4 separate regions of the Homo sapiens genome follow, and all the other regions are reported to be linked to region 3. The links are microRNA targets in miRTarBase. Many come from high-throughput screens and were not tested one by one. Region 3 holds a microRNA gene; each other region holds the end of a gene's coding sequence.

The links. The annotated mature microRNA hsa-miR-603 reads CACACACUGCAAUUACUUUUGC and lies in region 3 at 3,305-3,326, opposite strand. An mRNA with a match to its seed (bases 2 to 7 or 8) in the 3' UTR can be bound and repressed. Matches are read on the target gene's strand: a 7mer-m8 pairs with bases 2 to 8, a 7mer-A1 pairs with bases 2 to 7 and ends in A, and an 8mer does both.
Region 1: miRTarBase lists TECRL as a target of hsa-miR-603. Seed matches in the 3' UTR shown: 7mer-A1 at 3,115-3,121, 7mer-A1 at 3,123-3,129 and 7mer-A1 at 3,313-3,319.
Region 2: miRTarBase lists USP27X as a target of hsa-miR-603. Seed matches in the 3' UTR shown: 7mer-m8 at 5,503-5,509.
Region 4: the mRNA of KLHL42 is a reported target of hsa-miR-603. Seed matches in the 3' UTR shown: 7mer-A1 at 3,996-4,002.

What each region holds. Positions count from the first base shown.
Region 1 is chr4:64,274,086-64,281,211 of GRCh38, reverse strand. It overlaps TECRL (trans-2,3-enoyl-CoA reductase like), which reads left to right. Exons shown (of 12, transcript NM_001010874.5): 11 at 126-171; 12 at 1,013-3,510. The coding sequence ends at 1,140. Among named protein-coding and RNA genes, the nearest start is that of TECRL, 130 kb to the left of the region's middle.
Region 2 is chrX:49,880,714-49,887,839 of GRCh38, reverse strand. It overlaps USP27X (ubiquitin specific peptidase 27 X-linked), which reads right to left. Exons shown (of 1, transcript NM_001145073.3): 1 at 5,282-7,126. The coding sequence ends at 6,216. Among named protein-coding and RNA genes, the nearest start is that of USP27X, 4.8 kb to the right of the region's middle.
Region 3 is chr10:24,271,945-24,279,070 of GRCh38, reverse strand. MIR603 (microRNA 603) reads right to left here and starts at 3,386; the gene lies at 3,290-3,386. All of the region lies in intron 2 of KIAA1217, which reads right to left.
Region 4 is chr12:27,797,244-27,804,369 of GRCh38, reverse strand. KLHL42 (kelch like family member 42) reads right to left here. Exons shown (of 3, transcript NM_020782.2): 3 at 1,330-6,655. The coding sequence ends at 6,204. Among named protein-coding and RNA genes, the nearest start is that of MANSC4, 21 kb to the right of the region's middle.

The DNA.
Region 1 (7,126 bases), not on the chromosome of region 3:
GAAAATGTATTCCTATCTATAAGTTTTCTAATATTTTAAGCCTTAAAATTACCTGTTAAAGCCACAAATGAACAAATTACTAGATTCCATTTATGTATGTGCTAATTTAAGTTTTAATATAACAGATTGGATCATGGATTAGTTTCACAGTCATGACACAAACACTGCCAGGTAAGACCTAGATATACTGATAATTAATCAAAATAAATGCATCTTTAAGATAAATGGTTTCTGAGAAAAAGTTATTATAGTACTAAAGTATAGCATGATTGTAAAAGGATTTCATAGTTTCATACTGAGTTTGATTTTTAGCAGTATTAAAATATATTGAAGTACTTTTGCTCTTTGTCTCTGTATAATTGTTGCTTAATCCAAGCCAGGGATTGTAATCCAAATGTATTTATTAAGCAATGAAGTTTTGTTTAGAAGAAGTTTTGATAACAACGCATTTCGCTTGAAACTTCTTGTGCATGTGCACAGGCATGTGTATGTGTTTTGTCTTCAAAGGAAGAGTTGGGTTGTATGAGAGTTCATCTTGAATACTGAGCATTTTAACACACACTAAGAAGTTGAATTGCATGATTTCCATATAGTAGAAGGGACATATGTAATGTCCATTTTATCCATTTTGTTATATTGTACAAAAGTTTTGAATCACAATTAATGTGGTTTATTATATTATGTGCATGTAGAGGAATATTATATGCATACAGGCAACTATTATTGAAAATTTTTAAGTACAAAAATAAATCCTTATTTGGGAATATTTTGTGGCAGTGGTATATAAAATATGTAGATTCATTTTTAATTTTTAATGTATTTTCTGTGTTTACTCATTCATGCGATATTGATTGGCTATTGCTTGGGAATGGGTATGAATAATGAAAATTGATAAGAAATTATGCAACATTTGAGAAACATCTTAAAAGCTAAACATGCTAGGGATCCTTTTCCTAATATAACATTTCATAGAAATAAGAAAGAAATAATAATTATTTCTTTTTTCTTCTAGTTGGAATTTTTACACTTCTGATGAGTATCCAGATGTCTTTGTGGGCACAAAAGAAACATAAGATTTATCTGAGAAAATTCAATTCATATATTCATAGAAAATCAGCAATGATTCCATTCATATTGTAAAAAAAGAATCTTATCTCCTATAGAAAACAGCAACATATAAATTCAATAAATAAGACTTAGTTAAGGATAGTTAACTATTATACTCCAACAATTCATGAGCAACAGTATATACACTGAGTAAAAATATAAAATAGTAAAATTTCACTAAATTTAGAGAAATGCACATGGTAATAAAAAGTATAAATTATAAATGCAATTAACTAAGAACAGCTCTGAATGTATTTGCATGGGATTGGTCCTTGAATAAAATTGTCTTACTTCATTAATACTTCACAATACTATTTGCATAAGACAAAATACCACAGCAAAAAAAAAAATCTGATTAACAAATGAAAAAGCGATCTGAACAGACATTTCCCAAAGGAAGACATATACATGGTCAATAAGTATATTTTTAAAATGCTCAACATTAACTATTCATACAGAAATGCAAATCAAAACCACAATGAGATATCATCTCATCCTAATTAAGGTGACTATTTTCAAAAAGACAAAAAATATGACAGCCGTGGTGGTTCATATCTGTAATCCTAACACTTTGACAGGCCAAGGCAGGGGAATTGCTTGAGTTCAGAAGTTTGAGATCTGGGCAACATATTGAGACTCTGTCTCTAAAAAGCATATTGAGACTCTGTCTCTACAAAAAAATTTTAAAAAGTAAAAATTAGCTGGGCGTGGTGGCACATGCCAGTAGGTAGTCCCAGCTACTCGAGGTTGCTCCAGCTCAGGCGTTCAAGGCTACAGAGAGCCATGATTAAACCAAGGCACTCCAGCCTGGGTGACAGAGTGAGACTGTCTCAAAATAAAATAAAAATAACATATTGGTGAAGATGCGGGAAAAAAAAAAGAACTCTTAGACACTGCTGGTGGGAATGTAAACTAGAGCAGCCATGTGGAGAACAACATGGACTTTCTTCAAAAATTACAAATAGAACTATCATATGATCCAGCAATACCATTACTGGAAAAAGGAAATCTGTATATTAAAGAGACATTTGAACCCTATGTTTACTGCAGCACTATTCACAATAGCCAAGATATAGGAGCAACCTAGGTGTCCAACAACAGATGAATGGATAAAGAAAATGTGGTATATATACACAATAGAATACTATGCAGCCATAAAAACTGAATTCCTGTCATTCAGGACAACATGGATGGAATTGGAGGGCATATGTTAAGTGAAACAAGCCAGGAACAGAAAGTTAAACATTGCATGTTATTACTTATATGTGGAAGCTAAAAAAATTGATATCATAGAAGTAAAAAATAAAACAGAGGATACTACAGGCTGGGAAAGCTGCAGCAAAGGGAGACTAGAGAGAGATTTGTTAAAGGATACAAAGTTACAGCTTGGTAGGAGGAATAATTTCTGGTGTTCTATACCACTGTAGGACGACTATAGTTAAGAACATTATATTCCATTTAGTTTCAAATAGCTAAAAGGAGATTTTGTCCCCAACAAAAAGAAATGATAAATATTTGAAACCATGGATACTCTAATTTCTCTGATCTGACCACTATAAATTATATGTATTGAAACATTATTATGTATCTCCCAAATATGTTCAATTCTTATGTCGCTCAAAAAATAAAATTTAATTTAAAAAGTATCTGATTTTTAAAGTAAATATTTTTTAAAGTTTTGACATTTAAATTACTTGAATCTCATTATTTTGACAATAATTTAATTCTTTTATTGTTCAATCTGTTAGTGAGATGTGTCATAGGTATTATGTCATTAGTTCAAATTCTTGCGGAAATTATAGCTATATTAAAAGTGTAACATTTTTATTTAGTTGTGTACTTATTTGTTAATAATACAGACATTGTATGTTATCATACTGAAATTTACAATTAAAATATTTTCTGTAGATTATTTGAAAATCATTCTAAATATATATTTTGAAATATATAGATTATATTTGTATGTAAATTATATTTATACATCTTCTGAAATATATTTCAAAATATGTGTGTACGTGTGTATATGTGTATATATATACACATATATATACACATACACAAATATATGCATATTTCAAATGGATTGTATGCACTTGCAAAGCAAAAGTACATTGGTAATTTGGGCACATTCAGAGTGGAAAAAATTTGTTCTATTTTTACATCTTTAAATACCTATCTTCTATGAAAGCCTATGTGCATGTGTGTGTGTGTATGAGTTTCTATGTGAGCATGCATATATACTTCACAAAGAGATGACCTATATAAATCAAAGTACACATTATTTAAAATATTTAAAAAAATTTTCAGTTTCTTCATTTTTAAATTGTGATTTTTAGATTTGTTAGTCTATGGAGTATTTTCAATTCTCAGATTATACATATGTTATAAAATATGTTCATTAAAGCTCTTAGATTATATGCATATATGACAATATATACATATACAACTATATACACATATACAACTATATATATGTGACAATATATTGTAAAGCAGGTCTATATACACTGGGTAGGGGCTGTTTATTACTAACATATGTGGCCACTAAAGAAATAACAAAAAGCCCCTTTAAAAGCCTTATAATTCCCAAAGCATACTATTAAAATTTCTAAGGAGAAAACAATAACAACAATAAAATTCTCACTCCCTAATATCTATTCAGCTAAATTGTATGATATCATTTAATGATCTTAAAAAGAAATGTCAATGCAGTAAATCATATATACCTAATGCAGCTATATGATCAACTACTTGTGATAAATGTCCCTTTTTTGAAAGACTAAGAATAGTTTCTGTTTTTGTAACTCGATCCTGACAAATAGTAACCTAGGAAGTTTGCACATTCTTGTAGGACTAGAAGAAGGACTTTAAGTATGGGGTACCTATATGACAGACATTTTTTTTCCCATTATACTACACTCCCTTATGCCAGTTGCTCCATCATACTTTTTTTGTATCAGTTATTCCCTTACTGTTGGCAGACATACCTTAGTTAAAGGATATCTTAATTATGAAATGTGTTTTTTAAATTTATTTCTCATTTTTATTTCCAGGTGGTCTCACTGCCTAAGACATCAAAAGAAAAAGCCTGACAAATTTACACCATCTTGTTGTCAATATTAATGCTACAGGTATAATCCTGTAGCAGCCATGTACACATTTTTAGCCTTTAAAACCTAACCTTCATTTACAGGTTTTAGGAGTTACTATACATAAGTATGTACACATATGCATATGTATATGGGTATGTGTGTAAATGTGCACACTTACAAACTTTAATGATACTCTAAATTAATATATAAGATTTATGTAAATAATAAGTTTGCATTGCTGGCTAAAATATTGTGCATTTATTTTAATATAAAACAAATCTATATAATCTCACATATTCATGGTTTTTTGCCACATATCTAAGTAACTTAATTTTAGCTTATGGAGTATTTTGCAGGAGCAGCATTCAACACTGCATAGATTAGTTGTAAGTGTCTCAATTACATTTACATATCAGTGTGTTTGGTGGGGAAAGAAGATGAAAAATAAAACATTTGAATATAAAATTAAAATAAATAAAATATGACATTTATTTATGATAGATGTCATAATTTGATCATATTCATAGGAAAAACATTAATGAAAAATTTAAATGCAGAAAAATATATACACACATTATACAAATTAACAATAACATTACTACCACAGTTACTTATTGAAGTAATATGCTGTCTTTAATATGTTTCATTATACCATGTTCTCTCAGAGTTAACACTCTCATCCTATAAATAAAAGATATATTCTCAAATTCTAAAATTCTTGTGTGTGTATTTTCAACAGTTGTTATTTTTAGGTCAAGAAAAATATTATGACAATATTAGCAACTGTTAAATTCTATGCTTTGAGACGTATAGGCCTCATTTCTAATTTAATAAGGTATGTATATATTTGATATTTTCATAAAAGCAATACAGGGTTTGGCCAAGAAGTTTTGCCGTCTGTGAAAGGCATGCATTTGATGCTATTATAAGCCATATTAACTGGAGAACATTTCTAAAATACCTCCATTTCACATGCAAATTTTATACTCTATATATTGATGGATTTGTTTATGAGATTGAGAGTCAGATGTAGCAATTGGTGAGAGAGGAAACAGTTACAAGGCAGCCTCTACTTTTTAGATAGTTCGCTTGTTTAAGAGACAAAACAAGTTCAACTTTAATTGAAATATTGCATATTTGCTTGCTTAATTACTGTTAAACCTTAAATTAAATATTCTTTATAATAAGCATGTCTTCGAACATGAAATAAAATTAACAAGTCTGAGAGTGAAACTTTTCCCATTATGAGAGACATTTTAGTCAGCCTCATCACAAGAAGACTTTTGCTTTCCTCAAACCATCCCATATTTCTTTTTGACACTTGAAAGTATGCCTCTGCTTCCTGTATTTCTTTTAAACATTCTGGAGCTTTTGTTGTTTTGTTGTAACTGTTGCCAAATTTATAATTGTTAGATGACAAATGTCCTTAACAAGTGTTTTTCAGTAATTGTGCCTAAAGAAATACAATTATAATTGCCATCAAACTAATTTGGTATGCATGCTTTTACCTCCCAAACCATAAATTGTCCTCTTCCTTCAGGACACTGTAAACCTTGAATTAGAATCAAATCAACAATTTCCATTATTGTAATGTAGAAATCAGTTCATTTTTTAAACACAGGAATCAAAGACTGCCTGGCTTACATATCCTAAACAGTTTTAATATGAAAAAAAGATATATAAATGTTTAGAAAAAAAATTAGTAGAATTAATTAAAATCAATTAGAATATGTGTATTAAAAGCAATATTAAGTTGTATCCATATGTTGTTCTTTTATTCTTTGGGTTACATGGGATATAAAGGGATTGACAACCTCAACCTGTAAATGCTTCTTTAAAAATCATGGAATTATGAATCTGATTCCCATTTTCAGTCTTCCCTAAGGCCCTTTCTCTATTATAATTTCTTAGAATGTATTTGCTCTTCTTTTCTATAACTTTTGCCGAATATGTCATTTATTAAAACAAAACAAAGCAAACAAAACTCTAAAAACTAAAAATACACCATTACTGGTTATAAGTCTTTCTTCAGATAAATGCATAGTTCTGTAAATTCATGCCCCATGATATCTTCACAGATTATCCATTGGTTTTCTTGGTGTTTAGTAATTCTTGTACATATCCAAAGATAGGTCAGTTCAGAGGGTCTTAAGGAAGATGAAACTGCTGAAATAAAGACTGGACCCGGTTGGGAAATGAATCTCACTTAAAGCAAAGATTGATAATAATCTCAAGCAAAAGTGGGAAAATATCATAACAGGAGGTCTCTTGCCAAACTATAGCTTTGCACATCCCATTTGGAGTTTAAGACTAGTACCCAGTAATTTAAATATTTAAATTTATGAGCATAGTAAGAAATATGAGATTTGATAACCTCAGAGTTTTCTAATACTAGATTTTGATAACAATATTTAAAAAATCAACAGTTCCTTTAATTTAATTATTATTCTAGTAGTTACTTTTGGAAAAATTGTTTAATTCTCTATCCCAAAACAATTTGTCAAAAAAAACCCAGTGTTTTTAAAATGCCACATCTTTGTCTTTCCCAGTATTTTCATAAAAAATAGCTGGAGAGAGAAAAACAAAACAAAACAAAGAGATGCATCAGCTGCAGCTACACATCAATTACCGCATAACTGCTTCCAGTGCCTAACCCTTCTACCTCCAGTTTCTACTTTTTCTACCTCTAGTTGTTACTTTTAAAATGCATTCTGGGCTGGGCATGGTGGCTCACCCCTGTAATCCCAGCATTTTGGGAGGCTGAGGAGGGTGGATCACCTGAGGTCAGGAGTTCGAGACCAGCCTGACAAACATGGAGAAATGCCGTCTCTACTAAAAATACAAAATTAGCCAGGCATGGTGGCGCATGCCTGTAATCCCAGCTACTCAGGAGGCTGAGGCGGGTGGATCACCTGAGGTCAGGAGTT
Region 2 (7,126 bases), not on the chromosome of region 3:
CTTGTGGTTCCAGAGACAACATAAGCCCTTTCATTGTTTATTCTTCAACCCCCTTTTAATGGACAAGAGAAGTTACTAAAGGCTTTACCCAGAGGTTTCACCTATAGCTCCTCTGCCTGTGGTGGACCTGAAGCTGTGTTGTCAGCACCTGGATGGGTATTGGACTCCCAGCTCCAAGTCCCTAGCCCTCAGGGCCTGATATCTGGAACCAATACCACACAGGACACTGCAGTGTCTGTTTACAACTACTACACTGCCTTTTGTTTTTCCTTTTGTTTCCCTAGAGATTTTGATTTTTATTTTTTAAAGCTCAGCTAGAAATGTAAATTTTTGTTCTAGTTGATCTAGTGTTAATCTATGTTTGTAGTGGGAACGAGGCACTAGTTATATCATCTTAGTGTGCTGTGTTGCCAGAAGAAACCATGTTTTATACACACAATTTGGCACCTTTTTATAATTAAGCATTCTTCCTTATCATTTCCATCCTCATAAATATCCACTTCTTTAAGTTCTAAAGAAATTAAGTCTCCCCTCAGGACCATCTAGATTGTGAGTGCACATGAGGCCAGGCCTCTGTAGCAGGCTGGATTACTTTCCAGACACACCACCAGGTCGTTTAAGTATATCATTCCCCTGGGGTCTAAAATTTCTTACCACAGTGAGTTTCAACTTTAAAATAGTTTAGTAGCAGAACCCTTTCTGCAAGTATTACCTGGAACCCCCAAATACCAAACAAATAAGAGGAGAGCTTCTCTGGTTGAAGTGGGGTTGAGAGTTCTGATCTCACCAACTTATTTTCCTTGCTCCCTGCAGTGCTCTCCAAGGTGCTCCCTGGGCCATCTTCATAGACTCCTTGGACTCCAGGAAGGTGAGATAACGAATAGATCAGTGGTTCTCAAAGTGTGGTCCCAGAACTAGGAGTATGGGCATCACCTGGGGATGTGTTAGAAATGCAAATTCTCAAGCCCCCATCCCAGATCTACTGAACCAGAAACTCTGGGGGTGGGACCCAGCAATCTGTGTGTTAATGAGCCCTCTTGGTACATGAGGACCTCTGATGCATATTAAAGTTTGAGAAATTACCAGAATATTGCATTCAGGAGCTACTGGAACAAGGCTGAAGTGTTGCCCAAGATTAACATTTCTTGGGTGCTTAAATTAACCCAAGCTTCTTTGGAAGGTTATTTTCCATCCACCATTTTCTTTTACCTGAGTGATATTACAGACACTCTTGAGACACTTTCTTGTACCTGAGTGAGATTATAGACATTCTCAAGGCAAAGACACAACTTTGCAATGGCCTGAGTCCCTCCGAATTGATTCAATATCAGGAGGCTGAGGTGGGAGGATTGTTTGAGCCCAGGAGGTCGACACTGCATGATTGCACCATTGCACTCCAGCCTGGGTGACAGAGTGAGACCCCATCTCAAAAGAAAATAAATAAATAAAACAAACAAACAAACAAATAAATCACAGGGACGAGTAGGGATTCCTACTCTTAGTTCATTAGACAGAAATAATGAAGTTCCTCCTAATTTTTCTTGACAAAAAGACTTCAGGCTGATCTCATTTCACAGAGGCCAGCCCACTCTCTCCTCTCTGAGAGGGTATTACTTTAAAAAAAAAAAAGACTCGAGGTCTGAAGTTCATAAAATGACTATCGAACAAAAGAAGCCAGACATAAAAGAGTACATGCTGAACAACTGCATTTAGAGAAGGTCTAAAGACAGACAACACTAATCTACAGTGAAAAGAAGTTAAGATAGGTGTCTTTGAGTTCTGGGGAATGTTTTGTTTCTTGATCTGGATGCTGCTTACAGGGATATGTTTACTTTGTAGAAATTCATCAAGTTATAAATGATATGTGCACTTTTCCTGTATATTTGATATACTTCAATATAAGAGTTTAAAAATGGCACTGGGTCTCACCTGCAGAGCAAGTGTGTAATGACACACTGTGGTGAGTGCTGGGCTACATACTTTCAGAGGATCTGGGCCTTCGTTTCTGGGTGTGAAACATACATTTGGAGGAAACACAGGTTTCTGGCACCAGGTCTACTGGATTTGAAAGTAAGAGTTGCGTGGGGGCCACTCTGTTTCTTGATCGGAAAAAGGCCTTTTGGTTGATGGCGTCCCTGATCAGAATTCCCTGTAGACAGTGAATAAGTGAGACAGTTACCAATGTGACCTGCAGGCCAGAGTCAGTTTTAGCATCTGGCTACTCCAAGAAATGGTAAATGGCAGGGTCCTGGATTTCTAATCAAATTATGCCACGAAATTGTGGGAAGAAATGTGTAATGGGTGACAGGGCAGTATCTCATTGTTTGGTACATGGTTCTGAACTCTGTGGGTGGTTAATGCCCCCAGTTGTGAGCACCCATATTTCACCTGTGCCCCTCTGAGTCCAGATCACAAACCTACATACGAACCAAGTCTCCCAGTCCTAACAGTATGTGGATGTAAATGAAGTCTCTGCTAAAGAATTAGCTTAGCTGGGCGCAGTGGCTCACACCTGTAATCCCAGCACTTTGGGAGGCCAAGGCGGGTGGATCACCTGAAGTCAGGAGTTTGAGACCAGCCTGGCCAACATGGCAAAACCCTGTCTCTACTAAAAATACAAAAAATTAGCTGGGTGTGGTGGTGGGCGCCTGTAATCCCAGCTACTCGGTAGGCTGAGGCAGGAGAATTGCTTGAACCTAGGAGGCAGAGGTTGCGGTGAGCTGAGATCACGCCATTGCACTGCACTCCAGCCTGGGCGACAGAGCAAGACTCTGTCTCAAAAAAAAAAAAAAAAAAAGAATTAGCTTAAATTTCACTGGTTCTTGTCCCATCTGCTCATCTAGGAACTCCAGCCCACATGAAAAATAACCCAATTGTGTCTGCAAGTCCCCAGTAGGTTACAAACCAATCCGTTTTCACCATCTCCCATGTTCTTTCTTACTTATTCTGGGCCCCTATCTTTGTGTACTCTGACCATGAAGCTGTTTGAGAACTAGTTACCCCTTCCCTCCCCACCCCTGCCACTGCTGTATTTGTGCTCACCGTGGGAACGTTAGTGAAGGTGCCAAGGGTGCTACTTCCTGATACCCCTAAAGGCCCTAATCGTGGAGGTGCCTGACCATGTGCCAGACATTCTCAAACATGCCTGGATCTCAGTTTGAGCTCAAGGTTAACACATACCTGCTGAATACATGATGCCTTGGGTTCCACGATGGTATGATCTGAAGGCAGGCTCTGGCTGCTGTTACATTCCATTGCTCAATTTGGGGGTTAGTGACTCGTAGGGGCATAGGACTGGCCTTGAATGGCTGCCCTGTTGCTAAGGGACAATGCTGTTTTCCAGATATAGGAGGCATGAGGTTCAATTAGAAAGTGCCCAGCACAGCTGCTCCCCCTGGCGGTCTGTGCCTTCCACCAGCCGAGACAGGGAGGTCAGGTTCAGCATCTCTTGCCATTCATAGCTCTCAGTGAGTTCCTCTTAGAACTATGGTTGAGTGCAGGGTATTTAAAAGGGTTTTCTGTATCAGACAAACCCAAAATGAGGAATGTGCTATTAAAAATGTGAATGTCATACAAGATGAAGAAAGGTTGTGGAAATGTTCCAGATTAAAGGAGGCTAAAGAGAGATGACAACTAAATGCAATACTTCACCCTAAACCAGATCCTGCAATAGAGTGGGAAAATGCTATAAAGGACCTTACTGGGTCACCAGACAAAATTGGAATACAAATCGTAGATTAATGTATTCTATCAATGTTAAATTTTCTGAAGCTCTACTGTAGTGATGTGGGGAATATGCCTATTTTTAGGAAATGCACACTGACATATTTAGGCATGGAGGGCCATGATATATGTAATTAATTTATCTTCATATCGTTCAAAAATACACACCCCCATTTATAAAAGAGTGCACATGTGCAAATGATAATACAAATGAGGTAAAATTTCCCAACAGGTAAATCTGGTATAGAGCATACAGATGCTCTTTATACTATTTTTTATAACTTTTCTGTAAACTTGAAATGATTTCCAAATAAAAATGTTTAAAATTTTTAAAGGTCAGTTTCTGTGCAAGCAGTCAGGATCTGGTGGCACAGGCCTGCCTGGACTCTTCCCCTGGCAGAGATGAAGAATGAGGACATGGCTGTGTTCTTCCAGGTAGGGATACCAGACCCATCCCAAAAGGTAGTCAGACACCCTGCACGAAGTTGCCAAGTGCCATCCAAAGTCACCCATCTCTTGAGCTCCCCCATCCTACAAGACACCAAAAATAACAACTTTTTACATTTTCTCCTGAAAATTATGAGCCCTAGGTGTTAATGAAATCTCGGTTATGAAAGGAAGGTGTATTGGTTCATTAACTCATCCATCCATTCATTCATTCAGTAAATGTTTTGAATACCTACTTACCATGTGACAGGAGCTAAGGGAATGAGAATGCATCCCAAGGTACAAGAGGAGACACAACTCCTGTCCTAAAAAAGCCTATAAGCTAGTTGTGATGCACCCACAGCCACGTAAATAAACATATATTTCCAAATGAGTTGACCATGAAGTAGACTTGGGAAGCAATGGGGAGCCCAGCCTTTTACCAGAGCCAGTGGATCCAAGCCCCATGGATGTGATACGCATTCAATTTCCCTCCAGGATTATCTAGGTAACAATTACTTTTGTACCTGATGCTGATGAGAGAAGGACTCATAGTGCTTACCCCATCCTGGGTTCATCCCATCTGTTTTGGCTTAGCTCTCTGCAGGCTGCTCTGCCCTCTGACAGTATCAGGGAAGGGGCCAACAAGCCACTCTATCAATATCCCTGGGCTGATGGGCCAGTGAACTTTGGAAAACAGTCTTTCTACTGATCTGTGCCTGTGAGTAAACATAGCAACCGAACCCATAATGTTTTTAGAAGACGAAGACCACCAAATTCCCTCGTGTGCAAGCCTGGCAGCCTACTGGCCATGAGAGTCCCATCACTGGGATCTGAATCATGAAAGCAACATGACTGTCCTCCAAAAGGACAGAATAATGACCTTATGGGACAGCTGTGGTCCTTTCCACCCCCAATCCCAGGTGGCACCCACTGTGATGCCCTGCACACAAGGGACAAAAGTGGAGTTCATTGCCTTGGTACTCTAAATAGACAGCATTGGGGAGGGAGTTGTGGAGAATGTGTGTGTGACTGTATGTGACATGATGTGTGTCCCTTCTGTCCAGGGGTCTCAGGCAGGACTGACCCCCACCTCTGATGCATTCTGGGCCTGGTCCAAAGAAGTTTCAGGTTTGGATCCAACAAACGTTTACTGAGTCCCTACAAAGTTCCAAGCCTTTTACTTTATACTTTGACACATTTTTATATCATTTTATCTTTAACAATAACCCTTTAAGGTAGGAATTATCTGCATTTTACAGATGATAAAACAATCGCAAAGAGGTTCATTGATTTGCTCAAGTATATCATACAGCTTTTTTTTTTCTTTTTTTTTTTTTTTTTTTAACACACACACACTATACTCTTAGCTGAGGCCTGTCTGCGTTGGTTGCTTATCTTACAGCATTTCTTGTCTTCTCTACTTTTGGAGCGACGGCTCCCCTTTTACAAGCCCCCTTATTTCCTCTCCTTTCACTAGCCCAGGTGGGCTTTTCTTGTTTTAATACTGCATTTAATAGCACAAAAAATCACGAATACAAAGAAACTGGCAAAGGTGTTTGTCAATGATATCCCTGCCTCCTCCACTTTTCTGCTTTCATACCCATATATGTAATGGGCTACATTTTTTAGAAACTTTTCTTTTTCCCCCCAAACATATAACTGTTATGTGATTGGTCAATTGAAGCTGAAACACCCATGGAGAAAGATGTTTTACGGTTACAAGGGCACACTCCCCCCCCACCACCCCCCTCCCCCCCACACTTTCCCACACAATCTTTTGGAGGAATATAGGATATGTACCAGTGTCAGCATTTTCCTGCTCCTGCCTTCCTCACCCAGAGTGTTTCTACCATTTAATTTCCCTTTCATCAACTGCTTAGACTAGAGCCTCTTCTCCCTCCCCTTCTATTTCTCTTCCAATCAGGACCTTTTGGACACTGGGTACTGTTCAATTCTTACTCTGTCAGGCCCATGGGCCATGGTCAAGTAGGTCCTTTAGATCTCGATGCCAGTTGTAGTATTGGTGTCGTCATCTTCCATTGCAGGTAGGTCTGTGTGTCACTTCAGTAGGCTTGTGTGTTCATTTCTTTCACTTTTTCTGACTCATGTTCTAGCACCTGTTTGTGATAGAACAGTAAATACCCTTCACTGTCCAGTACGTCCTTAATACTGGCCTTAGTGATGACGGCATCATCACACTTGAACCACTGGTCCTTGTGGTGCCGGATGAAGCTGGTATAGTGGCCACTCTCCAAGGTTCCTTGGTGATTAACCACAGCAAACAAGGAATACTTATTTTCGTTGTTTCCACTATTGGTTGGCAGCTGCAATTGTCCATTCATTCTGCTCTCTTTACTTGAGGCCATAAACGGCGTCATATCCAGCTCCAGAGGAAAGGAAATGTATGTAGTGATCTTGCGCCTCTGTTTCGCTGAATGTTCAAACCGTTTGAAATGAAAACAGGCAACGACAGGTAATTTATTCATTGTGAGCTGTTTGGTAGATTCCTGGTAGCTTTGGCAACTACCACATTTGATTTTGGCACTGCTTCCTAAGTGCTCTGGCCTCGTAAACCTCCGCAAGCAGTCCGTGAGGGTGGTGATTCCTGGTATGTGGCTTTCCCCGTTCACACTGCTCTCCCTCCCTGGGCTCATGGGCCAGAAGGAGGTGCAAGAGCCAGGCAAGTCCAAACTAATGTCCCAGCATGGGTCTATCGTGGTGGAGACGCCATGGCAGGCTTGACAGGTGACATCAGACTGCAGGCCACCTGTGAAGATTTGGTCTATGATGCAGTTACAGTGGTTGGGATTGTTGGCCGCCTTCCCGACATCATCACCTTTGCAGTGCCTGTGCAGGACATCTAACGCTGCAATGAGGAACTCGTGGGCATCCTGTTGCCTGTACCCTGCTAAATGGCGGGCATGTATCCACACCAGGTGCAGTAACTTATAGGGCACATGAGGAGACGGGTTTC
Region 3 (7,126 bases):
GTTGGGAGTTCAAGACCAGCCTGGCAAACCCTGTCTCTACTATAAATACAAAAATTAGTGGTGGCCCGTGACTGTAATCCCAGCTACTCAGGAGGCTGAGGCATGAGAATCGCTTGAGCCTGGGAGGCAGAGGTTGCAGTGAGCTGAGATTGGGCCGCTGCACTCCAGCCTGAGCAACAGAGTGAGACTCTGTCTCCAAGAAAAAAAAAAAAAAAAGTAATCTGAGTACACCAACAGCAGATTCAAATTACTCAGTCTTCACAGTTAGCAACTTTAACTCAGTTCTTATTTAAAAACAAGGAAGTGAGTGGCCAAAGGAAGTAAATTTCTCTCTAGCATAACACTGTAGAGCACGCTAGTGGTAACACCCACTTTATTTGCAGTCCCCACTAGACAGCACACATTAGGTTACTCATCTCTTTCATTCCTTCTGTCTCCCCAGTGGCTAACATCATGCCCAGAACAGCAGAGTTGGTATCCAAATATTCACTGAATAGACAAATAAGACTCAATACAAGGGACTTGCCACTTGCCTAGTGCCCACATTGTGTCTGCCACTTGCCACATGCTTTCGATAGATTATCCCTTATCCACACAACTCTGCAAGCTCTGTATTATTTTTGGACACTTCACAGATGAAGGTCAGTGGGATTAAACAGCTTTCTCTAAGCCACACAGCTCATGAGTAAATTCAAAACCGGGTCTGTGTAATTTCAAAATTCCTGCTTATCTCACTCCAAACACTGCCTCTCCCTGGTCTGCACACAATGGTCTGAGTTCTAGGTTTCCGGCCTCACAGAGTAACTCTCATCCATCTTCTACCTGACAGTCTTTCAGAAATGAAGACTTTCCAGAAGCCAGTGGTCAGTCTGACCCTTTACACCGCCACTGTGGCTGTAATGTGCTTCTCCACAGTGTTTTGGCCTGCTCCAAAGTGGCTCATGCAGACCCTGCCTCTCCTCGCTACTTTCACACACAGCCTAAGAGGTGGCGTCATCACACTCCACAGCATCTCACCCATGACGGCGTCCTCGAGCTGCACAGACTGTGCGTCCGTCCTCAAAGGACAAAAGGCATAGGTCCATAGAGCTGCTGTCCAAAAGCATCACAAAGGGAAGCCAGCAAGCACTGCTTTCTATCACAGGGGAGAAGTTCCCAGCTGATTGCTGGCAGTGCTGCCACTGTCTTTTGCCCGTCAGAGGGTGAGTCAGAGAGAGGACTCAGGAAAACCTACTGTATTAGGCCATTCTCATGCTGCGATTAGGACAAACCTGAGATTGGGTAATTTATAAAGGAAAGAGGTTTAATTGACTCACAGTTCTGCAGGGCTGGGGAGGCCTCAGGAAACTTACAATCATGGTTGAAGGGGAAGCAAACACGTCCTTCTTCACATGGCAGCAGCAAGGAGAAGAATGAGTGCCCAGTGAAAGGGAAAGCCCCTTATAAAACCATCAGCTTTCATGAGAACTCACTCACTATTATGAAAATAGCATGGGGAAAACCGCCCCCATGATTCAATTACCTCCCACCAGGTTCCTCCCACAACATGTGGGGATTATGGGAACTACAATTCAAGATGAGAAGTGGGTGGGTACACAGCCAAACTATATCATCTGCATAGCAGGTGGCCTTGTCTCCCCATTCCTGGGCTCCCCCAGGGCAACCTGTCCCCCATCCCACTCACGAGGCTTCCCTCTAGGAAGCCGCTAAGAAGAGACCTGCCACCCACCTGCTTGCTCCACTTTGAGTGGGAACCACACCAGGGTCAACCTCAGAAACATCTGAAAAGTTGGAAGTAAATTCAGCAGTCTAGCAAAAGCAGTCTTCTGCAACTGAGGAATCCAGGTTGAGCGCTGCCATGACCTGTATTTGAAAAGCTGCCACCTTCCAATCAGGCCAGAGTTAAAGAGCAATTTGAAAAGAGCAAGAATTTCCAAGCTATAAAACTAGGGACATGATTCTAAGAGGATAAAACATTTTAAGATTGGTTTAAAAGCTTTTGAAAAATTTAAGGCCAGGCATGGCAGCTCACATCTATAATCATAGAGCTTTGGGAGGCCGAGGTGGGAGGATTGCTTGAGGTCAGGAATTTGACACCAGCTTGGGCAACACGGGGAGACCCCATCTCTACGATTTTTATTTTTTTTTTAATTAGCTGGACTTGGCTGGGTGTGGTGGCTCATGCCTGTAATCCCAGCACTTTGAGAGGCTGAGGCGGACGGATCACAAGGTCAGGAGTTCCAGACCAGCCTGGCCAATATGGTGAAACCCTGTCTCTACTAAAAATACAAAAATTAGCTGGGCGTAGTAGCACATGCTTGTAGTCCCAGCTACTCAGGAGGCTGAGGCAGGACAATCACTTGAACTTGAGAGACAGAGGTTGCTGTGAGCCGAGATCGCGCCACTGCACTACGGCCTCGGTGACAAAGTGAGATTCCATCTCAGAAAAAAAAAAAAAAAAAGCTGGACTTGATGGCATGTGCCAGTAGTTCCAGCTACTAGGGAGGCTGAGGTGGGAGCATCACTTGAGTCCAGGACTTCAAGGTTACAGGGGCTATGATTGTGCCACTGCACTCCAGCCTGGGTGACAAAGCGAGACCCTGTCTCTTAAAAATTTTTTGTTTTTAAATTCAAACCCAGTTTTCCTCAGGACTCTTATTAACAGCTATCTAAGGAATAGGAAGGGATGCCCTCAAACCGGGCAGAACGAGATGGAATTCTAAGTCATTTTGTCTTTTGCATTTCTGAAAAGACTTTCATTTTTCAAAGGACATCAAAACTGAAATGCCTTATAAATCCCTTTGTGTTTCTGCGTTCTGTTCAATGGCATCAATAAGATGGATGATCAGCAAATGGCATCAAACTCCATTTGTATTCTTATTAGAATAATAACACGTAAAATGATATGAAATGAAACAGCAGATTCCAATGACCTTGTAGCCCAATTCAATTACTATTTCACTAAATAACGACAAAACTGACAGTCCTCAAGCTGCTGAATTTATGAATTAAATTCAACTTCTCTTCTACATTCTGAGCAGGACTGAGTGGAAAAAGAAATGGTCAGTGAGGACTGGGGAGGAGTTTCCTTCTCTTTGCTATTTAATGCAACATCGCCAAGCCCACTGGAGGGAGGGGTATGGAAAGACAGTTTAAAAAGGAATATCAGGACCAGAAGGGAGAACTGATGGCCAGGGCCCTTGCTATAGTTTGCTCCTGCAGATGAGACACTGCTTTGGAAAATTTTATCATTAACCAAACTGCACTGATGCTAAAAGTCAATAAAGCCAAGTATTAAGTTGGAGCAAAAGTAATTGCAGTGTGTGCCATTACTTTTAAATGGGAAGCACTGCAATTACTTTTGCACCAAACCAACAGCATCAATCTTGCCTGCATCTTAAGCAAAGGCTTAATGAGAAAAAAAACATACTTGAGACTACTAAAGCATTATACAGTCAGTCCTCATTACTAGCAGATTCTGTATTTGTAAATATGCCCATCACCTAAAATCTGTTTGTGACCCTCAAATTAATACTCCCAAATGTTTGCAGTCATCATAGACATGGCAGGACAGTGGACAACTGGAGTTTCCCAACAAGCACGTTCCCAGGTGGCGTCTAACTAAACAACACTCTGCTTTTTTGTTTCAGTTTTCATACTGTAAGGAAGCACCCTTTCCACAGTCTTTTTAGTGCCACAAGTTTCGCATTTTTGTGTCTTTTTGTGTCTGTGTGTGCACCTGCATGCGTGTATGTGTGTGTGAGTGACTTCACTATTTAAAATGGTCCAAGCCAGGTGCAGTGGCTCATGCCTGAAATCCCAGCACTTTGGGAGGCTAAGGCAAGAGAATTGCTTTGTGACAGGAGTTCAAGACCAGCCTGGAATATACTAGTCATGTTCATTGGGGAATTAAGACCTCAAAAACATAGCCAGACCCTGCCTCTACAAAAAAATAAAATTAAAAAATTAGCTGGGCATGGTGGCGTGTGCCTGTAGTCCCAGATATTTGGGAGGCTGAGGTGGGAAGATCACTTGAGCCCAGGAGTTTGAGGCTCCAGTGAGTTGTGATTGTGTCACTGCACTCCAGCCTGGTCAAGAGGGCGAGACCCGGCATCTACAAATTTTTTCTTTAAATAAGAAAAGAGAATAAATTTTAAAAATAAGAAATAAAATGAAATGGCCCTTAAGTATGGTGTGGAAGTACTATTTGGCATTCCTAGGCTCAAGAAGGCTGTGATACACCTTACACAAAAAATAAGTGCATTAGATAAGCTTAGTTCAATGCTAATGAATCAATAATATATATTTTAAAAGGTGTCTTCAAACAAAAACACAGGTAAAATAAGGATTTTTGTTGATTGGTTGATAAAAAGGTAACCAAAGACTCACAGGAACCTAACCCTGTATTTCCCCTAGGAAATTCAGTATTAACTAATAAATTCAGGACTCACTAATGCAGTATTTAGGGCAAGTTTATAGAACATCAATACTGTGAATAACAAGAATTGACTGTATTTTCAAACTGCAGTAAAAATGCCATAAGTATGTAAAATAGGACTTGTAGGAAGACAACAAAGTATATTTAGATGTAGCAGGTTCATCTTTTTTACTTTTTTTGCAGATGTGAGAACTTGACAATTTCTAACCACTGGACTTAGAATGGAGAACACAGCCAATCTGGGTGACAGAGCAATATTCCGTCTCAAAAAAAAAAAAAAATTAGCTGGACTTGGTGGCATGCACCAGTAGTTCTAGTTACTTGGGAGGCTGAGGTGGCTGGTCATGAACTCCTGACCTCAAGTCTCCCAAAATGCTGGGATTATAGGTGTGAGCCATTGTGCCTGGCCAGCAATGGCAATATTTTCTTACTACCAACTCTCAGAAAACATACATTATTCTCCATAATTATCCAATAAATTTGGACCCATCTGAAAATAAGCATCAGTCACTTTTCAGTTTATACATGTATGCTATTAGTCATTACTCTGGTAATATGTGAAATGTAAATCATTGCCTTATTACTTACTGGATATGGGCTGTTTTTTGGTTGAGGTATGCGTCTAATTTATTGGTACTACATTAGAAAATGCCCTACACCAAATATCTGCTCTGATTGGACTAAGATCCTACATTTTTATATTTGGGAATATTGCTCAACTTGAGAAAGGCAAGATGTCCCAATCCCTGCAACAGTAACTTGGACTTTTTTTTTTTTTTTGAGACAGAGTCTTGTTCTGTCGCCCAGGCTAGAACACAGTGGCACGATCTCGGCTCACTGCAACCTCCATCTCGTGTGCTCAGGCGATTCTCCAGCCTCAAGCCTCCCGAGTAGCTGTGATTACAGGCATGTGCCACCACACCCGGCTGATATTTGCATTTTTAGTAGAGACAGGGTTTCACTATGTTGGCCAGGCTGGTCTCGAACTCCTGACCTCAGGTGATCCACCCACCTTGGCCTCCCAAAGTGCTTGGATTACAGGCATGAGCCATGGCGTCCAGCCAATAACTTGGACTTCTAATTAAAGATGTGACGTGGGCCAGTTATGCATAGAGGTAAGCCAAGGGCCTCTTATGTGACACCCTCACTGGACTGGGACAGATTCTGCCATGTCATTTACCTTGAGTACTCCAAAAGGAAGAACATAAAAATAATAATGTAATGAAAGTAGCAAGGGTATGTTTAACTTCAAAGAAGATCATTAATACTTAGCCTGGACTGTCTGAGAATATGACTAGAGAAAAGGGAATGAAGGAAAGAGGAGTACTTAATCTATGCTTATTGTTCAAATGCTCTTCTCTGCTCACACTTTGCAAATGTTAATAAGAGTCTGATCTCTTGATAGTAACCATAGGGAAATTTATCAGCCTCTAAACATAATTTCTCCCTTTTCTCTATCCTGAGTCTCCAATGAGTTGGGCAAAATGCAGAGGCATCTCATTCATTCAGAAAATGCCATCTTTTCTCTCTCTCATATATGTAGTGTTGCTAAAATTAACTAAAAAATTAACTAGTTTTAATTTTCTTCTTCTTAAAGGCTTCTGTCCATAACTGTCCAAGGCGCAGAAGGGCACAGACTTTTACGCAATGAGAGTCCCCTGACATTCTGCTGTCTAAGACTTCATTCTCAGAGTGCAAGGACCAGAGAAAGAACTGGGGTGGATGCTATTCCACGTTTGCTCTTTTCATTAAGACTTTTCAAAGAAGACTTTATTCCAACATGCATTTAAAAGAAAAAGAAATGAAGAATTCTTCCTTCAGGCGAATAACTCATAAGGGGAAAAAAACCCTTGAATATGATTTATTTCACAGGGATCATTGAAGAGCACGTGAAAACCGATCTCTGTTGAAATTCCGAAATACTTGTTAATGCCACCTTGAAAGAAGTAAAGAATTTCGAAGTCAGTTATTAAATAAATCCATGACTATTTGAACAGCTATCTCAATTTGGCTGGAATGTGGCTAGAATTCGAGTTATGTACATTGAGTTTGAGTAGAATGTGGCTTTGACAATGAGTCAACCTTAGTATTTTCTTCCCAACAATGATGGAGCGGCTTGGTGAATGCAGAGCTCCCTAGAGTAGCTTTTAGAACTCGTACTCTCCTTTCAACAACAGATTGCTCAGTTGAGAAGTTTTAGAACTGAATGAAAACTCAGGCATCATTTAGTTATTTGTGCAACTTGAATATTTTTTCCAATAAGATAACCAAGGCCAAAAAAATTAAGTGGAAAAAATGTCACACATCGAGTTAGAAAGTAGAACTAATCTAGATTCAAGCACTCCTAGCTACTAGTCCAGAGTTCTTATTACTAACCTGGACCTGCAGTGAGCACCACTGACATCCCTAACTGAGTAGTGACTTCCCTAGTAATCTCCCTTATCTAATTTTACTGCATAAACACATTGCTATCTGTTACAGGAATGGGATCTTAATCATGTAGAGAGAAGGGAAAACAAGGCATGAGGAACCTTTGAACCTTATTGCTAGGCTTCAAGTAGAGAGATGTCAGGTTGTCTCCCGAGTCCACCCTTCCCACCCAATTTCCTACTCTCACGAGCATCCCATGGGCTTTGGTCTCTCTGTGCCTCTTGTAACCAACCTAAAATGGAGATGCATAAAAGTGGC
Region 4 (7,126 bases), not on the chromosome of region 3:
AAGAAGAAGAGGAAATAGGGTGGGTATTTTATTCCCCAAACACCTCCTGCCACACAGAGGTAATCATTTCTACTAATGCTGCAGTCCCTGGGATGTAGTCTGGGAACGGCAGACCCCTATGGTTTCAGATTATCCCAAAGCTAAGAGAGAGATTGACGCCATCAAACTGAAGGTGGAGGCATGGGCAGGAAGCCTGTGGCTAAGAGACAGACATCATAAAGATGGGCTCTAAGTTAAAGAAACTGGGCTCCTCTAAATCTGGGCCTTTATCCTATGGAGTTGCCGGAGATCAGATTTACCAGCATCTGAGTTTTTATTTATTTATTTTTTTAATAGAGACAGGGTCTCATTGTATTGCCCAGGCTGTCCTTGAACTCCTGGGCTCAAGCAATCCTTCCACCTCAGCCTCCCAAAGTGCTGGGATTATAGGTGTGAGCCACCGTGCCCAGCCTCAAATGGGTTTTTAAAGTTTTATTGCCAAGGAAATGTTGATGGCCTACAAACAGGAGCCTAGGATCCCTGGCCTCAACAGAAGTGTTCAGGTGCCCCTCCACACACCTCCTGTAACCATGCCCACAGGAAGAGGCTGCCACTTCACCCCCAGGCAGGTCAGCCATGGAACGCGCTGCTGCAAAGCAGGACCAGAGGCTCCCAGACTGGCTCACTCGGAAACCCACTCCTCCACTAGCAAGAGAAAGGATACCCTTTAAACCAGTGACCACTGTATGTAGTTTTCCCTTCTCCTCTTTCTCAAGTGGCAATTTGTAACCTACAGTGCCTCAGTTTCCTCAACTGTAAAGCGGAGGATATTTGTATTTACCACATGGGATTCATGTGAGGATTAAATAATTTAAATAAAAAATGCTTAGAATAATTCCTGGGAAAAAAAAAAGTGCTCAGTTAGATTTGGGTGTCGCTCTGCTAGGTCAGCCATCCTCCTTCTCCTCCATCAGTGTGTCCTGAGTGTGTAGAAAATGGTTGTCCATTTATTTCATTTTTCTTGAGTTGGGGTCTTGCACTGTCTGCCCAGGCTGGAGTGCAGTGGTGCAATCAGATCTCACTGCAGCCCCAAACTCCTGGGCCCAAGCAATCCTCCTGCCTCAGCCTCCCAAGTAGCTGGGACTAGAGGCATGCACCACTGTATCGGCTAATTTCTTTTATTTCTATTTTTTGTAGAGACAGGATTTCACTGTTGCCCAGGCTGGTCTCAAATTCCTGGCCCCAAGCAATCCTCCCACCTCAGGCTCCCAAGTCACTTCACCCATTTCCTCCCAGTCCTGGCACAGCCCTGCATACGTAACTGATACATAGAACTTAGATAACAAAAAGTGACTGAAAACTACTTTATTTGAAGACATTTTCTTCTATAGTTCTAAACACAAAAGGAATGCTGTTATAGTGGGTATTTCATAGGCATTCTTGTATTCAAATGAATCACATAATGTTTACACTTTTAAGCTAGACTTGAAATTGAAGACTTAATACAACCTTTTAACAAAGAAAGTATCAGTCATATCAAAACATAACTATTCATTCTACAGATTATCACTTTCCCTAAAATGACTACTAGATATGAAAACATTGCAGGGACAGCTCAAGTGCCCCATTCTTAAGGGTTTTTTTTAATAGGAAAAATGACAACGTAAATCACATTTTCCTTTTCTTTACTAGTAATGAACTATGGCAATCCATTTGAGAAAGCACCAGCCAACCGTACAAGTCATTTCAGCACCCTTTGCTCTTCAAAACTGACCATCTTTTATATTTAATGCTTCCTGTATGAATAAAAATGGTTATGTCAAGTACAGACGTCAGCAACGTGTCAGTTGGTGTGAATTTATGATGTGTTCCTAAGTCAACAGAGAAAATAAAAAAAATCTCTCATGTGAATAAAATCTAAGGATGAAAAACTATCCTTTGATAATTATCACAAGGCAAAATCAACCACCTTTTCATCAGTACTAGTGTGGAATGGAAATTTCTTTATTAATACTTTTTATGGGAATGTTTTAAAGGCATAGGTATAAATGCACATGCAATCAGCTTGCCCCTCTTAGATACTAACTTCCCCAGCTTCACTCCTCCTTTTCACTGGAACAAGCTGCTGAATCCCTAACTCCAAAGTCTGCAGTGCTTGGTGAGCATTTTTAAATAAAGATTATATGTGATTTTCACTTTTTCACAAAAATGAAGTACAGAGAAGACTGAAAAGCAGTGAGAAAAAAATCATAGAGCAAAAAACTAAAACACAAGATGTGATGTTCAAATTTAAAAGAAAAACAAAACTGGTTCGTGATGATTGTTAGTAAATCACAAAAACAAAGGACGGACAGGGCCAAGACCGAAGGGACCACCAGACCACCGAGCCCCAATGTGCCAGACAAAAGTGGGCATCTTTGAGAAGGACGCCCTGGTGAAGACAATTACAGTGAACCTCTTTATAAGGCCGTAAGCTCTTCAAGGTCATGGGCCGTGACTTATTTATGTCTGTATTCTGTTCTTAGCATTGTCTTGCACATGACAGACACTCAGTATTTCTGGTAACCACAGAACTGGAGCTCAATCAGCTCACTGCTTTCAAAGTCATTTTGGTTGGTGTCTACCCACTTAATTCTTTCACTCCTCTGTCTAAGGCAGGGATGGCAAATAGCCTTCATTTCACTCTGATGGACTGGGAATAGATGTCTGGAAGCACCAATCTGACATGGATTCTAAGACCAAATCCTGGCACAGAGGACAGGAATGCTGCACTCATTCATAATGCCTCCTTAAAAGAGCGGTGGCACAGGTGTTATATATTCCCCATTCCTGGTCTAGGAAAAAGGCATCCAACACCTACTTATATTCCTTTTACATTGCTATGCTGCCTCTTGAGTGATCTGCATTAAGCCACTGTTCGTTAAATGCTGGTTGATCAGGAAGACCAAGGCCTTTCCTCTCAATTTACGTCTTTGGCCAAACAGGTAGGGTCAGAACTTCACCTGGAAATCTGAAAACACATCATCCACAATGCTCAATAGGCAACAGTCCATTGAAAGAGAACAGGTATTTACTTGATTACTCCCTTTGTAGAGAAAGAATTTTGCCCATCTCAATGGTGTGTAGCTTTCATTGATATCTAAGGCATTTGGAATTACTTAGGATCTTGGTGTTAAAAAAAAAAAAATGGCAGGGTTAAATTCTCTTTGGTTCTCATTCTAATCTTAAGACTTCTGTTTGTTTCTTCCTGGTACCCATAACCTTCTCAGCACTTCGTCGTTGTGACTTAACCAATACTGTTGAAATAATCAACTCTTTCACACATTCATCAGAAAACCTTTTAAAGGATGCTAAGGGGAGAGGCCTCTGAAAATAAGTGGGTTGAAAGGAAAGCCAGAGAGAATAACAGGAAGAACCAACCTTCTAACAACCCACACACAGGACTCTCTACCATTCAGACTGCTATCTATAAAATAGGGTGCTTCTGGTCGGGGGGCTGCCACCCCAGGTCCTCCAAGCAACCCTTTTCCCCATAGTGGGAGGTCAGCATCCCTCAGAAGCATCTCAGGAAAAAATGATAAAGCATTTAGAGAATTGGGAAGAAAATAGAGGGATACTATCAAAGAGTAAAGGACAGTCCTGGGGGATGAAGGGGGATTTTCTTTTTTCTTTTTTTTTTTTTGGAGACAGAGTCTTGCACTGTCGCCCAGGCTGGAGTGCAATGGCACAATCTCGGCTCACTGCAACCTCCGCCTGAAGGGAGATTTTCAAAGCAACATTGCCTCTATCATAGGTAGTCTTCAATGTAATACTGGCACCAACAAGAGAACCGAGCTAAATTAAAACTACCCTCAAAATGTCATCACAGCTGATGTGCACAGCAGGAAGGACGATGTCACAAAATGCACAGATCTGTTCCTATTGCACATTCCACCTTTCCCACGTACTGCTGGCAGCCCAGAATAACCAAAATCTTTTTAGATGTCTGTCTTAAAGAGAGCTATAATATGCAAACATACACACACACACACACACACACCCCCACACACACACACAACCTCAAACCTGGTTTATAAAAGAGCTTTGTGGATCAGAGTACACCCTCACTTGGTCCAAGAATCTAATTGTCAACATTAGGCAAATAGACCCAATGAATGTAACCAGGAAGAGAATTAACTGGTTGGCTGGAATATTGTATTTGATATGATATGCTTATTTGCAAACTAATCTCCAACTGTTTGTCCAGTACTAATTCAACTGACTCATCTTCTAAATGTATAGGACAAAGCCTTTAAAAAGTTAAGCTCTTCAGCAACGAAAAGTTAACACCATCTAAAATAAATAGATTTTAAAATATATGTAATGAAATTACAGGTCACTGGAAATTCAATTCTACAATGAATATAAATTAACATTAAAATCTATTAAGTACTATTCCTGGGAAGATTTTGGTTCAGAGGTTTTATTTTTTTAAGGGCTTAATATTTGGGAATAAATGGGCATAGCTTAGAAACCCTTACAAAGTTGTAAGTAGACTAGAGGTAAGATTATTTGGTGACAAGATACAAAGATCTGTTTCTATGTCCAAAATAATGGCTTACCTCATTTTAGTTAATAGAAGTATTCCCAAAAAGTTGTGCAAATAGGCTTTTTATAACTGGACGCTTATTTTAAGTATACTAGAGGCCATGGTTGTAAAGAAAACCTGTAGTCACTCCTCTAATAAACTGAAGAACTCTAAGTGATTAGCCCCTGTCCTACATCTGCACAGTGGACGGCATACTCCAGGCACTCATAAGTGTTTGTTGAATGCATGAATTCGCTCTGACAGTTTTTTTTTTCCCCTACAGGACTTTCTTAAAGTGAGGCACATGCTAACTGAAATGGTTCTGCCCGCTGTTACTGCAGAAAGATGGAATCCAGCTCACAGTTTAACTGATGCCATTACAAAATATCAGATAATTTCAGAGTGTTTTCAATCAAAATAAAATTTCCATAAGTATGAGTGTATGTATTTTTGAGGAATGTTGATCTATGATTGGCAGAAGCTTTTATTGTTAACTCACTCACTGAAAACAACTGCTTGAGCTGAATTCTATTTCAATTAACAACCAAGGCAAGTAAAGCACTTTACCTAACTTCAGAAATACCACCAGAAACCATTCCACTTCTGTAACAGCTTCTTCCCCTCACTCCAGCACAAATATTTAAATGCTGTCCTTACCTTAGTCCACAAAAGCAAAACATGAATTACAAAGCTAAGATTAAATTAGAAAGCTGCCGACTTAAATATGACAAAGTTTTTTTAGCCTTAAAATAAGAACTAAGTCAAATACATTCAACAAAAGTAACTCTTAAAGGCAAATTTTTTTCTTATTTGGTGTTTTCTTCCCTTCCCATTTAAATTTAAGACTCAATTTTTAATAATATTCATATGTCCATTTTTCTAAATAATATATCCTCTTTAAAACAATACAGAATGCCTAGCAGTGCAACCTATGTGTCCACATAAATATGCAACCTGCCACATAAATAAAATAAGAGGTTTTATCAGTCTATTTATCCAGCATTTGTAACTGCAAAAAAGGCTGGAAAAATAGCTAAGAATATTTTTATGCAAGTTTTGGGGAGGACTGAACACTGGTAAGGATTCACTGTAGGGCTCCATCATTATAAGTTTCCTAAAAAGTAGTGTGCAAACAAAATATCTGAACACAGAACCCTAAACATACTAGATGTATGTGTGGGTATGGGTGATGGAGAAGAGAGAATGAATATGTTAATATGAATGCTTGTCAAGGACACTGATAAGAAAAAGAAAACCTCTCACTTAAGGTGCTAATGATATGTCAAGGGACCTAAATACAACAGATTTTAAAATCATCTTTACCATTTGTCCCAATTATTGACTTTGGCCCTTTACCACACAGACACAATGAATCTACATTTTGATGATCCGTCATTGGCCCAAGAGTATCATGTTTGGAGATGGATTTGCTCCCATAATTTAAAAATCAATAATTTAAAAAATAACAAAGTTGGTCTCTTTTTTCCACCAGTTTTCAAGTAATTAGTTCAAGTAAGCTTATTTACAGCTGCTACTGTATATATGTGACCTACTTTAACCCTTCTTTACCCTTTAGGAATTGGTCTCCCTTGGAATGGGACACCACATTTTAAAAAAAACTTGAACCAGGTTTTTTTCATCTACCAATTCAATTCAGTCATGTTTCTGCTTTATTGGGCAGATAAAGAGAAGAAACCAGCAAGTTATGTCCAAAAGCTGGAAAACGCCGAAATGCTTCCCAACTATCTGAAAAGATGTTGTACTTGAGGAACACTCGGTGTTCCAAGCTGGTCGACAGGGTGACGTCTCTGCTCATGATGTAGATGCCGTCGTTATGGAGCGCACAAGTCAAGTTAAGACCCGATTTGGACGTGTTCTCCTTGAGGTAGAGCCACTGGCGGGTGACGGTGTTGTAGGACTGCACGGTGAGCATGTCCTCGCTCTGGCTGCTCCTGCGGTTGGGCCCCAGCTCGTGGAGACACCCCCCCACGATGTAGATGGTCTCTTCCACAGACACCATCTGCTGCTTGCGAATGTGGACGTCACATGTTTCAAAGAGCGTCCACATGTCGGAAGAGGGGCAGTACTGCAAAATGTTCATGTTCCGGTCTGAAAGAAAGAAAGACAAGTGATGACACCGCCTCCACTAACACCACTAGGCAAGTCTGTACAGAAATGTCTACCTCTGCCTGCATAATTTGGTAACAAAGAGAAAAAACTCTTTCAGAAAAAGCACAAGTTAGAAAAACAGTTTTCAAAGTGGCTGGGAAGAGATATATTTAGATCCATCCGCACTCACCTCCCACTCCCAAACGTCTCTTCCGTGGGAGACTCAGACTGGATAAAACCAGGAAAAAGCGCAGCTCTGACTTTCACACAGCCCCTCCTCCCTGGTATCCCCACACCTTTGAACCACCAGGTCAGTGTAAAAAAAGTAAGTGCCTCAGAACCCTCATCAATAGCTACAAAATTACCGACTACTTAATACAGAAGCCAGGCTGGGCAGCAAGTAGATTATTCTTGATAGCTGATCCTAAGAAACATGACAAGTAGCAACACAGGATCTCCAGAGGCTGTCTA